2 separate regions of the Homo sapiens genome follow, and region 2 is linked to region 1. The links come from fine-mapping of genetic effects on gene expression. A gene starts in region 1. The other region holds a variant in brackets. All regions are shown on one strand. Distances are between the middles of the regions.

The links.
Region 2: its variant is fine-mapped to the expression of FGA in lung (GTEx, PIP above 0.99).

What each region holds. Positions count from the first base shown.
Region 1 is chr4:154,587,390-154,595,905 of GRCh38, reverse strand. It overlaps FGA (fibrinogen alpha chain), which reads left to right and starts at 5,164. Exons shown (of 5, transcript NM_021871.4): 1 at 5,164-5,272; 2 at 6,344-6,469; 3 at 6,930-7,113; 4 at 8,249-8,394. The coding sequence starts at 5,219.
Region 2 is chr4:154,523,340-154,531,855 of GRCh38, reverse strand. It overlaps the pseudogene WDR77P1. Among named protein-coding and RNA genes, the nearest start is that of PLRG1, 23 kb to the left of the region's middle. The variant T/C (reference allele first, on the strand shown) is at 4,250.

The sequences.
Region 1 (8,516 bases):
ATGATCCCTTGAGCCCAAGGAGTTCAGGCTGCAGTAAGCCATGATTGTGCCACTACACTCCAGCTTGGGCAACAGAGCAAGACCCTGTCTCTAAAAAAAAAAAAAAAAAAAAAAAAGAAAAATAAAAAAACTACAGAAAGTTAAATAGCTTTGCCAATGTTGTCCAGTGAATTCATTACAGATCAGACTGTATTTATAAATGCCAAAATCTTGTAAATTTTTATAATTTAGTCATTTCAAAATTTAGAAGATAATTTTAGTACTTTCCAAGAATGCACTTAATATTGTTTTAACAAAATAGTTCCTGTCAAAGTACTATTATCTTCTTGTTATTAGGATACCAAATGTCTTTGGAAAGAATGTACAGATTCATGTAGATTTTTATGATAGATGACATAAGAATTTTTCAGAAACATCTTGTATTTTGAGACCTGAATTAAATCTGACTTTTTAAGAAATATCTCACACAAACAAAACAAAAAGCAATACGTAAGTGATATAACACTCTCTGCTGTGTGTTCTAACAGAACTCAGCATATAGCTTACAGATTTTTTCCATTGTTTTATATTAGATTAAACCGTATAAAACTGTAGATATTATTGTTTTGACCTACAAAAATGTCAAGTTTACATAGTTTAACTTAATTCTCAGCTGCATAACGTATTTGACTTGCTTGCCAATTGTAAGCAACTTGAAGGTAAAAGACTATACATTGTTTGCCTTTTTATCTTAAGCACATAGTATGCAGGACTAGAGAAATAATATACATAGGATAAATGATTGCTAAATTTAGACAAATGAGTGAATGAGTGAGCTGCTCTCAGAAATCAATGCATTTAATTTCTGGTGTCAGCCCAGGGTAAGACAAATATTCCATTCAAAATAACACTGTTGTTTTGTTTTGTATTTTTAAGTTGTATTTATACAATTGCAAATATATAGATAACTGGTTATATATTTTACTTTTCCTGTGGAAGCTGTGATGAGTAGATATAGTTTAAAACTGAAACATATAGCTATAGAATTTCTACTCTTTCTGTATACATTATATACCACACAAATAAAGCTATTAAAACTAGTAAAAACTATTCTAGTCATGCCAAAAGTTATGGCATAACAAATGTGTAAATTCCTGCATTCAAATGTTTATATTAACATTTATATTTAAATGTTTATATTACATTAACTTCAAAAGGATAGATATATCAAACATCCTTCTCATTAGAGCTAAGGTAAATAGGATGTAGTTATCTATAGGAAAAAGACAAACCTGGTGCAGTAGCTCATGCCTGTAATCCCAGCACTTTGGGAGGCTGAAGTGGGTGGAGCACCTCAGGTCAGGAGTTCAAGACCAGCCTGGTCAACATGGGGAAACCCTATCTCTACTAAAAATACAAAAAATTAGCCAGTCATGGTGGTGGGCACCTGTAATCCCAGCTACTCAGGAGGCTGAGGCAGGAAAATCGCTTGAACCCGGGAGGCAGAGGTTGCAGTAAGCTGAGATGGCGCTGTTGCACTCCAGCCTGGGTGGCAGAGTGAGACTCCATCTCAAAAAGAAAAAGCCAATGCACGGCAGATTATAATTTAAGCAACTGAAAATTTCTTCCATCTTTTTTCCAGTTTTGCACATTTAAAGATACGCTTATTGTCACATGCTTTTTAAAAAATGATACTCGTATCATGCCTATTAATTTGCATGGTTTTCCAGCTAAACAAAACCTACTCCTCCAAAGCTTACAATACAGCCTGTTCATGGGGCAGAGAGCCCAGCCTAGTGAGCAGCCTGCAGTGTGGGGCCAAACAGTGAGCTACAGAAGTGCCTCATTAGGGACTCCTGGTACTACAGTCAAAACAAGGGAACATTTTATCATGGAGCATTGGGATATTCTAGGAACAATAAAAGCTACTGTTTCTAGAGCTCCTGCTGTGTATGGCCAACATTTTACATACACCATTTTACATAATCTTCACAGCAATCCTGTAAGACAAATATCATCATCCCATTTATAGCTCAGAGAATTTAAATAGTTTGCCCATGTCACTTAGCTGGAATCCAGGTCTCACATGCTGGAAAGCCCACCATGCATTGTCACCACCATATGGTGACAGCCTTCCATTTCTCCAGCAGATACTGAGCAGCAATTGCTCTATGCCTGACATTTGTGCCAGTCCTTGTGCCTTGGCCTCAGGAAGCTTTGTGTAGGCAAGACACAGAATAAACAAATACCTTCCCAAATGCACATTGTCCAGGAGTTATAAGGTACTGCGTGGAAAAACCAAGCAGAGTCAATGGAATGACATGCGAGAGTGGCAGCTCTTTAGATCAGGTGGCCAGAGAAGGCCTCTCTGAGTAGATGCCATGTGAGCAGAGGCCAGGAGTAAGAAAGGGTGTGAGATGTGCTGATTCTGAGAGGCAAGGATAAAGCCCTCAGGTGGCATCCTTGGAAACACCCTGACATGGCACTAGGGTGGTGGCATTCAACCAAATTGTTTTCTGTTAATTTACCTTCAATCAGATTATGTTCAGCCGACTCACCTAAGGCCTACCAGGTTACTCTCGGGAACTTCTTTGCTATATACCATGTTCACCTCCCAAAGGGGCACTTCTTGTGGGCATAGGAAAATGTGTGCAGAGATCAAGCCTCACCTTCCTATCTAATCCTGACATTTTGCCAGTGCAGTCATTGTGAGTGAGTGTAACCCAGCTTTTCATGGAATCATTGCCCTCTGGAACCTGGATGGGGCTCTGGGGCTTCCTCTTTGCTCTGCAGTTAACTCTAAAATCATAGCAAGCTGCTTCAGGGGTGAGCTTGATCAGACAAGGAGTCTTCCATAGAGCAGACAGTGCACTGCCTTGCACCAGGGCTTCCATCCATTTATAGAAAGCTTCACACGTCTGCAGTGCTGGGGGAGGCAGCCAGGCAACTTCGCATCTCTGGAACCCACTTATGCTTTCTTGCTCAATGAGGGCCCACACCTTTTGGGGAGAATATAAAGACCAATAAAACATTTCAATTCTCAAGTTTATGATCTAGTGGAGGAGACAGACGGTACTCCTATAATGATAAATGCCATTAGTGGTGCACAGTCTAAGGAAGTATGAAAGAACATGAGATTCCTTTTAATTGGACATTGAATCAGGTACCCTGCAAAATGTCTAGCAAAGAACCCAAGACTTAGTAAACATTCAATACACATTAGCTATTACTCTATTAGGATTGGCTTCATGTAGGAAGCAGAATTTGAGGCAAGGTAGGATTGCCAGATAAAGTACAGGATGTCCAGTAAAGTTTGAATTTCAGATGAACAACAAAAAAATTTTAAGTGTGTCTCAAATATCACATGAGACATACTTATACTCAAATAGATTTGTTGTTTATCTGAAATTCAAATTTAACTGGGACACTCTTATTTTTATTTGCTATTTCCGCCAACCTAATACATCTGGTAAATGTAAGCTGAAGATGTTTTTTACCTTTATTGAAGTATAATTGACAAATAAAAATTGCATAATTTAGGTTGTACAGCTGGATGTTTGTTTTTTTATTTTCCTTTAAAGGGGAACTTCTCTCTGATTGGTGTTTTGATACACATAAACATTGTGAAATGATTACCACTATTAATCTAATTAGCACTTAAAACACCTCATATAGTTATCTTTTTGTGTGGTGAGAAGACTTAAGATCTACCTTTTTAGCAAATTTCAAATATACAGCATAATATTATCAACTATAGTCACCATGCTGCACATTGGACTCCAGAACTTATTTATATTGCATAGCTCAAACTTTGTGCCCTCTAACCAACATCTCCCCCATTTCTCCTATGCCTCAGGCCCTGGCCACCACCATTCTACACTTTTCTTCCGTGAGTTTGACTATTTTAGATTTCACATGTAAGAAAGATCATACAGTATTTGTCTTTCTTTTCCGTTTTTTTTTTTTTTTTTGAGAAGGAGTCTCACTCTGTGGCCCAGGCTGGAGTGCAATGATGCAATCTCGGCTCACTGCAACCTCCTCCACCTCCCGCGTTCAAGTGATTCTCCCTGCCTCAGCCTCCTGAGTAGCTGGGATTACAGGTGCCTGTCACCACGACCAGCTAAGCAGTATTTGTCTGTCTATATCTGCTCATTTCACTTAGGATAATGCCCTCTAGGTTCATCAATGTTACTGCAAATGACAGAATTTCCTTCTTTTTCAAGGCTGAGTAATACTCCATTGTGTATATATATATATACACATTTTCTTTATCTACTCATCCATCAGTGGAAACAGGTTGTTTTCATATCTCGGCTATTGTCAATATAGCTACAATGAACATGGGAATGCAGGTGTCTCTTCAAGATCCTGATTTCATTTCCTTTGGAAATACACTCAGAAATGAGATTGCTAGCACAGAAACAGGAAATAAATGGTATTTTTCATGGCACTTTATGATCTCCCATAATTCACTGAGTATTTCCTATGTGACAGTCACTGTTCTGAGAGATTTACAAGAATTAACTCATTTATTCTTCATAAAAGCATGGGGTAGCTTATCAGCATCCTTATTTTATAAATGAGGAAACTGAAGTATAAAGAGGTAAAGTAACTTGTCCAAGAACATAGAGCAGGGAAGTGGTGCAGCTTGGATTATGAACCCAAGATGTTTTGTTCCTGGGGCTGCTGTCATCTTAATATTTTAAATAGAGAAAAGTAATATGTTCTAAATAAACTTATAGAAAGCCTTCAGGGCCAGCTTATCCCCAAAGTTATTTTTTTTATAAGCCAGATCACCCAACCCTAATTTCTGCATAAAGTGAAATATTGTTTGCTAAATCACTACTACTGGGGGCTACAGCTAGCTTACCTAAGCACCTTCTATATTCTTTCACGTTTAGAAATATGGATATACCCTCCTATGCTCCTCTTTTCATTCTCAAAGCCACCCTGTTCCTGGAATGTGAGATCTCCTAATTGTTGACTGGAGAATCAAATGCTACCTTTGCAACAGCTTATCGGAAGCAAACAAGCTGAGGGGAATTGAGCAAGAATTTCTGGGATACCAACAGCATAGGAGGAACAAAGGACGTAGAGGGAGGGTTGACTGTCTACACAGGACAAAGCCAATGATTAACCAAACCTCTTGCAGATTTAAATAGGATGGGAACTAGGAGTGGCAGCAATCCTTTCTTTCAGCTGGAGTGCTCCTCAGGAGCCAGCCCCACCCTTAGAAAAGATGTTTTCCATGAGGATCGTCTGCCTGGTCCTAAGTGTGGTGGGCACAGCATGGGTATGGCCCTTTTCATTTTTTCTTCTTGCTTTCTCTCTGGTGTTTATTCCACAAAGAGCCTGGAGGTCAGAGTCTACCTGCTCTATGTCCTGACACACTCTTAGCTTTATGACCCCAGGCCTGGGAGGAAATTTCCTGGGTGGGCTTGACACCTCAAGAATACAGGGTAATATGACACCAAGAGGAAGATCTTAGATGGATGAGAGTGTACAAACTCACAAGGGAAACTTTAGCATCTGTCATTCAGTCTTACCACATTTTGTTTTGTTTTGTTTTAAAAAGGGCAAGAATTATTTGCCATCCTTGTACCTATAAAGCCTTGGTGCATTATAATGCTAGTTAATGGAATAAAACATTTTATGGTAAGATTTGTTTTCTTTAGTTATTAATTTCTTGCTACTTGTCCATAATAAGCAGAACTTTTAGTGTTAGTACAGTTTTGCTGAAAGGTTATTGTTGTGTTTGTCAAGACAGAAGAAAAAGCAAACGAATTATCTTTGGAAATATCTTTGCAGTATCAGAAGAGATTAGTTAGTAAGGCAATACGCTTTTCCGCAGTAATGGTATTCTTTTAAATTATGAATCCATCTCTAAAGGTTACATAGAAACTTGAAGGAGAGAGGAACATTCAGTTAAGATAGTCTAGGTTTTTCTACTGAAGCAGCAATTACAGGAGAAAGAGCTCTACAGTAGTTTTCAACTTTCTGTCTGCAGTCATTAGTAAAAATGAAAAGGTAAAATTTAACTGATTTTATAGATTCAAATAATTTTCCTTTTAGGATGGATTCTTTAAAACTCCTAATATTTATCAAATGCTTATTTAAGTGTCACACACAGTTAAGAAATTTGTACACCTTGTCTCCTTTAATTCTCATAACAACTCCATAAAATGGGTCCTAGGATTTCCATTTGAAGATAAGAAACCTGAAGCTTGCCGAAGCCCTGTGTCTGCTCTCCTTAATCTCTGTGAGAGTGCCATCTCTTCCTGGGGACTTGTAGGCATGCCACTGTCTCCTCTTCTGGCTAACATTGCTGTTGCTCTCTTTTGTGTATGTGAATGAATCTTTAAAGACTGCAGATAGTGGTGAAGGTGACTTTCTAGCTGAAGGAGGAGGCGTGCGTGGCCCAAGGGTTGTGGAAAGACATCAATCTGCCTGCAAAGATTCAGACTGGCCCTTCTGCTCTGATGAAGACTGGGTAAGCAGTCAGCGGGGGAAGCAGGAGATTCCTTCCCTCTGATGCTAGAGGGGCTCACAGGCTGACCTGATTGGTCCCAGAAACTTTTTTAAATAGAAAATAATTGAATAGTTACCTACATAGCAAATAAAGAAAAGGAACCTACTCCCAAGAGCACTGTTTATTTACCTCCCCAACTCTGGATCATTAGTGGGTGAACAGACAGGATTTCAGTTGCATGCTCAGGCAAAACCAGGCTCCTGAGTATTGTGGCCTCAATTTCCTGGCACCTAATTTATGGCTAAGTGGACCCTCATTCCAGAGTTTCTCTGCGACCTCTAACTAGTCCTCTTACCTACTTTTAAGCCAACTTATCTGGAAGAGATAGGGTAGGAAGAAATGGGGGCTGCATGGAAACATGCAAAATTATTCTGAATCTGAGAGATAGATCCTTACTGTAATTTTCTCCCTTCACTTTCAGAACTACAAATGCCCTTCTGGCTGCAGGATGAAAGGGTTGATTGATGAAGTCAATCAAGATTTTACAAACAGAATAAATAAGCTCAAAAATTCACTATTTGAATATCAGAAGAACAATAAGGATTCTCATTCGTTGACCACTAATATAATGGAAATTTTGAGAGGCGATTTTTCCTCAGCCAATAGTAAGTATTACATATTTACTGCTTTGACTTTATAACAGAAACAACAAAAATCCTAAATAAATATGATATCCGCTTATATCTATGACAATTTCATCCCAAAGTACTTAGTGTAGAAACACATACCTTCATAATATCCCTGAAAATTTTAAGAGGGAGCTTTTGTTTTCGTTATTTTTTCAAAGTAAAAGATGTTAACTGAGATTGTTTAAGGTCACAAAATAAGTCAGAATTTTGGATTAAAAACAAGAATTTAAATGTGTTCTTTTCAACAGTATATACTGAAAGTAGGATGGGTCAGACTCTTTGAGTTGATATTTTTGTTTCTGCTTTGTAAAGGTGAAAACTGAGAGGTCAAGGAACTTGTTCAAAGACACAGAGCTGGGAATTCAACTCCCAGACTCCACTGAGCTGATTAGGTAGATTTTTAAATTTAAAATATAGGGTCAAGCTACGTCATTCTCACAGTCTACTCATTAGGGTTAGGAAACATTGCATTCACTCTGGGCATGGACAGCGAGTCTAGGGAGTCCTCAGTTTCTCAAGTTTTGCTTTGCCTTTTTACACCTTCACAAACACTTGACATTTAAAATCAGTGATGCAACACTAGCTGGCAAGTGAGTGATCCTGTTGACCCAAAACAGCTTAGGAACCATTTCAAATCTATAGATTAAAAAGAAAAGCTCATCAGTAAGAAAATCCAATATGTTCAAGTCCCTTGATTAAGGATGTTATAAAATAATTGAAATGCAATCAAACCAACTATTTTAACTCCAAATTACACCTTTAAAATTCCAAAGAAAGTTCTTCTTCTATATTTCTTTGGGATTACTAATTGCTATTAGGACATCTTAACTGGCATTCATGGAAGGCTGCAGGGCATAACATTATCCAAAAGTCAAATGCCCCATAGGTTTTGAACTCACAGATTAAACTGTAACCAAAATAAAATTAGGCATATTTACAAGCTAGTTTCTTTCTTTCTTTTTTCTCTTTCTTTCTTTCTTTCTTTCTTTCTTTCTTTCTTTCTTTCTTTCTTTCTTTCTTTCTCCTTCCTTCCTTTCTTCCTTTCTTTTTTGCTGGCAATTACAGACAAATCACTCAGCAGCTACTTCAATAACCATATTTTCGATTTCAGACCGTGATAATACCTACAACCGAGTGTCAGAGGATCTGAGAAGCAGAATTGAAGTCCTGAAGCGCAAAGTCATAGAAAAAGTACAGCATATCCAGCTTCTGCAGAAAAATGTTAGAGCTCAGTTGGTTGATATGAAACGACTGGAGGTAAGTATGTGGCTGTGGTCCCAGATGTCCTTGTTTCTGAGTAGAGGGAAAAGGAAGGCGATAGTTATGCACTGAGTGTCTACTATATGCAGAGAAAAGTGTTATATCCATCATCTACCTAA
Region 2 (8,516 bases), 64 kb after region 1:
TTTATTAAAGAAAAGGACTGACATGCATTTCAAGTAGTCTTTCTTTATAGCTTTCATTTGTGGTGATAAGTATCAACTGGAAATTTCTGAAAATGAAATTGAAATGACCCACCCCTGAGAAGAGCAATATTTGGTTGGCGTCTCTAACATCATACTTAAAAGACAGCCTATGAATTTCTTAAAAACTTTCAGACATTTCAGTTTGTTCATCTTCAGCACCATCCTGATGATTCTGTGATATCATGTGATCTTTTCTTCTGATCAGATGTCTGCACTTCTGGAAGAGGAGAAGGTATAGTTCAGAGCAGAATAAAACCCTGGTTTTATTCTTGGCTCTGACGCTGATTAATTGTGCAATGCGCTTGTCTACAAGTGACTTCAGTGACTGCATTTTTCTGTTCCTCAGTTTTCTCACTGGTGAAAACGAGTGATAATAGTTCTAGTCTCATCGAGTTGTTGTGCCTATTAAAGAGTAAAGTCATTGCAGGGCCTACCAAATAGTAAACACTCTACGAATATTAGCTATTATTTTGCTGGTTATGTTAATTGCCATCATGGTTGGTTACTGCTGCTGAAGTTTTTTATGGTGTCACAGGTTCTTTGCTCTCCTTTCTATCCTGAGCTGCTGAATTAGTTCTAGACTCTAGGACACCTGTCTCTCCCAAGGCCTTTGGTAAAGCGGCTCTTCATGTTTTAGGTGCAAATCAAGATGTCTCTAGACATATCCAGTTTCTGGTGAATGTCATGTTGATCATTCAAGGAGAAAATAACATAAATGCCTTGGATGGCATATCTATATATTATGCATAATTTACTGTATGTTTATTTTTAATATAATTTATATTTTATATAATCATCTTCATCTTTATATGTAACATAGATAATTGTATTATATATAACACACTTGAAATATTTGGCTTTGTTAATTGCCATTTAAAAATCTTAATGGAACCTTAATTACTTGGTTATTTATCTATATATTTCTCATGAAACAAGGATTATTTTTCCCCACTACCCAGTCCTCCCCCAGATATGTACCTGTGAATTAATTCCACATCAACTCTCTTCAAAGACCCAGCTCTGTTTTTGTTTTTTTTTTTTTTTTTTTTTTTTTAGGAAAGGGGCATATGGTAGGGTGAGTTAATTTCCAATAAGCATTCTCCTCTTTCACTTTATTTTATTTTATTTTTATTTTTTGGCAGGGGTCAGTGGGGAAGGTGTAGGGGATGCATCCACATAAAATGCTACATTTCTCAGACTTTTATTCAGTTATGTGTGGCTATGAAGGCAAGTCCTAGCCAGTGAGATTTAATCAGAAATGTTGTGTGGGACTTTCAGAAAGTTTGTTTAAAGTTGTTGACTCAGCTGGGAGATGTGGGCATTCACCCTTTCTCCTGTCAGGAAAGCAAATGTGATAGCTGGAGCATATAAATGTGACAGCTTGTCCCACCATCTTAGGACAAGAGGTGATCCTGAAAATGGAAGCCAGCATTAGGATAATGTAGCAGGGATACAGAAGCAGCCTGAGGTCATTATGAATACAGTGCTGCTATTCCAAGTCTAGACTGCTCATCTTTAGATATCAATTACATCATAGAGAAATAAACTTCTATCTTCCTTAAGCTACTGTTGTTTTGACTTTTATATTTTATAGGCAGCCACATTGTTTTTTAACAGATCCAGGGGACTTGCTTTTGAGTGCCTCCAGAAGTGGGTACATATCCATGGCAATTCAGATGGGAGCTCATCAAAGTCTCAGGGCAGGAGAGAAGGCGAAGGAATGGTGAGAAGTTGGCTTTTGTTGAATGAGCAACGGTCCATGTATAGGCAACAACGCGAGGAAGGCATTCATAGGAAAGTCACAAGAAGAAACTTGTAGCTTTTCTGCCAGGGGCATGATGATGAGCTCACAGGAATGGCAAGGGATGGTCTGTAGGTGTTGGCTGGGCTTCTTGATGTTTCCAAGGGGTGGAGCTGACTCTTGGCTGACTCTTTCTTTTTGAAGAGGTTATAAACTCTCTGCTCTGGTCTCCTTGGAGCTTCTCTTTTTGAATCTTAAAACCCTAGTTTCTACTTCAAAAATAATATTAAAATAGTTCCTTTCTCCTTAAATTCCTGCTTTAACAATCTTAATTCTCTCCCAGGCAACGTGATTGCCTCCAGCTGATGAAGGGAAGAGTCAGGAAGTGGAGGAGAGAAAAACACAAGGATTAATATGCAGGATGTTATCTCACTGCAAGTACCTCCACCATGGTGTCTTCTAACACTATGGTAAAATGACTGTTAATATGAAAAAAAATTTTTGTTTAAGCAAATCAAAATCAGTGTAGTTTCTGTTGATTAAAAAAGTACAAAAGAAAAATATCCATCAAACTTCCTAAGAAGTATTGTCCTGTACTGAGCATGCCAAATGTAAGAGAAAATTCTTAAAAGGAGAACCCATAAATACGGATGTTGCCAAAAAGCATGACATTATCATTTAGTAGATTGCTTTATGAATGAAAACAGCTATTTGAATAAAAAGTCTTGGCTGTCTACCACCCTCTTGGAAGCTGTTTGCAACGACAATTGCAATTAATAATAATTATATTATTAATTAATAATAATTGCTTCCAATACCTTTGGTGGCATTAGAAGGTACTGTTTTCCTTAGGAATTAATTGTAGGATTTTTCATTTCATTCTCACAAGGTGTGAAGGTGGAGACATATTACAGTAAATCATTTGCATTGGAGTGTGGCCAAGAGAGGGAATGTTGCAAGAGCAAAATACGATGAATGTCCATGAGAGAGTGGGAGGCCATAGTAGCTACAGGGAAGTAGGATGGAGCCAAAATAATCTCAAGTGCTTGTATGACTGGGACTATTAGTGAGGAATAAGAAACAAGACTCCCTGAGCGAGCCTGTGACTAAATGAAAGTACCAGAGTCCACTTTCACTGGGGTCAGAATGTTAGCTCTTCCTTGTCCTCTGCTGGTGTTTGAAAAATTTGATATCCATTATTAACATAGGTTCAAAATACTGAGAGAAATAGCTAAGGGATGATCCCCAGATACAATGAAAGTAACTCTGTTTTCTTTATTTCTGGGTCCTAGCTATGGCAGGTTATCTCCTATTTTAATAAGATATTAGAATTTTGCATGATTCATTCACTCATTCAACAAACACTTATTGACAGGTCACCCTTCCCTCCTTCCAGCACAGAGGCAGGTTTTTCTCTGTTTTTATTTCTCTTAGTTATTTCAGTTGGGAAACCTGTGTAACTATATGCAAAACGTATATATATGCACACATTTATTTAAAATTATTGCTGAATTTTGAAAAATCATTTATGAAAAATTATGACATAACATATATTATTATTCTAGTATACAGGAATTGTAATGTGGGCCAAACAAGTCATTCTTGATTTTCAGATGTGCCATAGTTTTAGTTTTACATTTTATTACTTTGTAACATTACAGATTTTGCCAGTTCATTTAATCAAACTTTATTAAATTGTGTAACTGTAAATGGAACTTTCTAAGTATAAGTCTATTCTAGCTAGCAAAATGTATTTTATCAAGTATAGTAACAGAAGAGTGATATACATAGGTTAGAAGTCCGTATCTATGAAAAAAATTCTTCTAAGACTTGACATAATTGTAACCTTATATTGGACTGTAAACTTAAACTTGGATGTATATATTGTCATTTACATAGTGTCATATATTCACACTAACTTGCTTGTCTGTGAACGATTAGAATGCTGAACTTTCACATTTAGACTGTTTTAAAATTGTCCACTACTGAGACTTAAATCAATTATTGATAATAAAACTGCATTATTGATTAATATGTATAAAGGACAGCTAATGTGTTAGTATTACCCTATCATTTAACTTGAACTATGGATGAAAAATGTAAGATATTCCTTTAAGTACTTTCTGTTCAACATCTTTTAAGAGAGACTTGGATTTGAGGGGGTAATAAAACATTTATTCTAGTGTAATGTCACAGATTTGCAGATAGTTCATTTTAAATCTCTGAGGTCTACACTCATTAACACTGACTTATAAAAAAGAAAGAGTTCCATTTACAAGATATTTGGTAAATGAAGAAAAGCATAAATATCACCAGCCACACTGTTCCCTACCCGCCCCCAAGCCCCAGCCACAGGGTGGAAGACATTCATGGACAGAAGCATGCTTTTCAGGGTAAATGTGACTTAGGATTCTTCCTGGATGGTGCATACGCCTCATAGTTCCCCAT[T/C]CTTCCATCCTGGAGAGAGCTGGAGGAGTGGAATGGGGTGTCTGGGAATTCTCCTAACACAATGGGGCAATGTCTTCACAGCATCCCTCCCCATTTGTTGTCATGACTTGCACCTGCAGGGCGCTCACTCCACCAGCTACCGCCCACCTGTGCAGAATCCTCATTTCACTTCCCTTCATCAAAGACCCAGCTGGTGGATGGAGCGCTAACTTCTCCTGGCTTAATTTTCTTTTTCTTAAATAAGGAGACAAATTCAATAAACTGGAACATTCTTCTGGTTTGATTGTGTGGACCAATCAAAATGTGGTCTTTGATAGCTTCTGAAATGAAACATACACACTATTTTATTAAAGGCAGAAAAACAAATATAGATGAAAATATCCAAAGTCTGCTACCAACTTTACGTTTTAAAAAATCCTCAGCCCGATTTTATATAACCATAAGCAGAAATTTCAGAAATATTCTCCTCAGAGGACAAAGTGAAAAAAGTTTTTTAATGCTTCTAACCCTCTAATGAGACTTATTTTCCTTAAACGGTTGGTCTGCCCTTATGTCCTGTCCTGTAACCTGTTTTGTTTGTTTGTTGTTTTTTTACCCTCATCTTTTCTGTGATGATAAATCTGTTCTTTTTTGTCAATGTCCTTGATCTTCCCAGAGCCTGGCAGGTTCCACCCCACCCTCTCCACAGACCTCCCTCCCCTTGCCTTCAGTTCCCTCATCCTCTTCCTCCTCAAGCTGCTCTATTACCAGTAACACATTTTAAATGTGTGGTTGGCTTTTTATAGACAATGGTTAGATTTAATATGTATGATTTATGTTTGAAAAGCAAGCAAGTTGTGGAAAGACTTGGGAATCGAGATTTGTTCTCTTTCTTGGATTGAAATCAATTTTGAAGGGTAGCACATAATGCCACATGCAGCCTATGGAACTTTATATCACACTAGACTTGGTTTAGTACACATGGATCAGGATGATGCTTTCAAAGGTGACATGCTCAAGATTTTGTTCCCCTTGGGAAATTCAGGACAGTGTTTCATCTTTTTTTTCAATAATTGAGGCCTCTTGTCTGTAATATCTTATACTTTCCAAAGAATTTTCATGTATTTTTTTTTAAATTGTGGTGAAATACACATAGAATTTATCATAACCATTTTTAATTATACACATCAGTAGTGCTGTGTACATTTGCATTGTTGTGCAATCAATCCTGAGAATGCTTTTCATCTGCAAAACTGAAACTCTGCACCAATTAAACAATAAACCCCCGTTCCCCTTTCCTCGCAGCTCCAGGAAACCACCTGTTTACTTTCTGTCTTTATGAATTTGATTACTCTAGGTTCCTCATATGAGTGGAATTGCATTTATCTTTTTACAGCTAGCCTATTTCACTCAGCATGGTGTCCTCAAGGTTCATCCATGTTGTAGCCCATGTCAGAATTTCCTTTCCTTTTAAGGCTGAATAATATTCCATTTTATGTATATACCACCTTTTTATTCATCCACTCATGTGTCAATGGACACTCGGGGAGCTGCCACCTTTTGACCGTTGTGAATAATGCTGCTCTAAACATGGGTATACAAATATCTCTTTGAGATCTTACTTTCATTTTTTTGGATGTGTATCCAGAAATTGAATTGCCGGATCACATGGTAATTGTATTTTTCATTTTTTGAGGAATTGTCATATTGTTTTCCATAATGACTGCACCATTTTTGATTCCCATCAACAGTGCACAAGGGTTCCAATTTTTCCACATCCTCACCAACACTTACTTTGTTTTGTTGTTTTTCAAAAAAGGCAGGCTTACAAGATGCCTAAACTGTTTATTTCACCAGCCAGTATTTCTGATTTTCTTCCTGAGGCTGAATTTTAAAACTTTAAAAGTCTACACATACTGCATTTAGACTTTCTATATGCAGAGAAAGGGGCTGAGAGCAGAAGAGGTCAGGCCCCAGGCTGGTTTTGGGTGGGAAAAGTGGCAAAGATTCCTCTGTAACAGTCTGTGTCAGTTTTCTAACAATTGAAATGCCTTTAAGCTCTCCAACATCCACAAAATTTCCTCTAGGGCATCTATGACAGAAAAACACTCCTCTTTCATATACACAACACCAGCAGGGAGCAGAGGGAAGGGAGTTGGCAGAAAGGAGTGGACATTACACAGGCACAGGCCACATTTTTAATTCATCCAGAAAAAGGACTTCTGATTCAGTTTAATGGAAATGAGTTGTATAAAACTATAACATGTCCTGCCTCTTCCTCAAAACGAGCTGGGCTGAATTTTTGTGATTGGAAGCATTTCCCATAACGGTGAATTAAGCGCTATAAAAAATAAAATCAGTCCCATCTCTATGAGTAGCATAAGAGCTGCTTCCAGGAACCTAGGGATGCCCACATTCCATACCCCACCCAGATATGGTCAATTCCTCAGACAGCTACATGGGAAGAATAAAACCCTTTTGTCAACTTTTTTGGGGAGTGAGGGAGAGATGGTGTTCAGGGGAGATGTGGGATAGATTTTTTTTAAATCCCTCCCCCACCGTCCCACCTCCCTACCAAAACCTACACACACACACTCAAGACGAACCTGCATGCCCATTTTTAAGAAAGCTTTTCTTTCCTGTGACTACAGGATCCCAGCATCCAGCCTCCTTCAGGCTGCGAGACGATGCCAATTAATGGCACAGATCTAATGTTTCAACATACTACAGAAGGCTCCTGTGTTATCTCACAAGCTGAGGGAACAGGGGCAAAGAAGTGGACTCTCATGGGGGACTTGCTGTTTGTCTTAAGTCCAATCTACTCAGCAACGCTTTCAGGTCCAGGGGCTGGGAGAGGTTCTGTGGGCACTTGTGGCAGACGACCTGATGGTCCCAGCCCATTGTGGTAAGCAGAAAGTGATTGAGGGGGGATCAAGCAGCATCTCTCGCAAGGTCACAGTGGCCTCGGCTTCTAAACACCTCAGAAAGGCTGGAGTCCAGCACAGCCAGTGAGCCATCTTCGCTGTAAGAGGCCGGGAAGGGAACACGGTGTGAGGAAAACACCAGCCCAATGACACATTGGTCTTGTACAGCTGAGCCAAGGGCACCTCTCCCTCTCTTGGTGTCCACAAGGGAGACTGTCCCATTCCCATCACAAAGATGAAGACTTCACTTTGCTGAGGATGCCAAGCCAGTGAGGTGGGAAGGCAGCCAGAGGCACTGCAGCCCACCTGTGACGTCGGCTTGGTCAGAGAGTATCCCAGAATAAAATTCTACTGTTCTCACTGCAGGAAAGAAACACAGAGTCCTTGCGGGGAGAGGCAGCAGCACAGGTGACCTGCCCAGCATGAGATCGGTATGAATTCAGTGCCACCTGCAGAGCAAGGTCCCAATCCTTGATGCTGAAGTCTTTGCTGCCGCTGACAGCCGAGAACACTGAGGGTAGACACAGTGTCTCCATGCTCATACTTGCAGAACTTGCTGACGGTAAGTGGCTCGTTCTCATCCACCTCCCACAATTCACCAGCACTTGAATCAGAAGCCGCTGTGATACCTCTCTCCTCCCCACAAGTGAGGTCAGCCACTCCAGCCTCCATCTGGGCTCCAGCAGAGCAGAAGCCTTCTTTGGGGGTGGCACAGGGGTCCTTAAAAAGGCAGAGGGGACCGGGCGCGGTGGCTCACGCCTATAATCCCAGCACTTTGGGAGGCCGAGACGGGCGGATCACAAGGTCAGGAGGTCGACACCATCCTGGCTAACACGGTGAAACCCCGTCTCTATTAAAAACACACACAAAAAATTAGCCAGGTGGTGGCAGGCGCCTGTAGTCCCAGCTACTCGGGAGGCTGAGGCAGGAGAATGGCGTGAACCCCGGAGGCGGAGCTTGCAGTGAGCCGAGATCGCGCCACTGCACTGCAGCATGGACGACAGAGCGAGACTCCGTCTAAAAAAAAAAGTCAGAGGGAGCCGGCTCAGCAGCGACCACTGAGACTGGAGGACCCGGAGCAGAAGCCCCCATGGGACTGGTACCGCGCAGCCTCCAACTGCGTTCCAAGCAGGCCGGTGCGTTAGGGGGCGGTAGGGAAGACGGGTTTCCTTCGGCATCTCCAGGGTTCCAACTCCAACCTGGATTCTGCTCCGGTAGCAACTCCCACGTGCTGCACCTCCTGTTTGCTTTTGGTTGTTGTTGTTGTTTTCCCCTTGATAGTAGCCATCCTAGTCGGTATGAGATGGTATCTCATGGTTTTAATTTGCATTTCCCTGGTGTTTAGTAGTGCTGAGCATATTTGT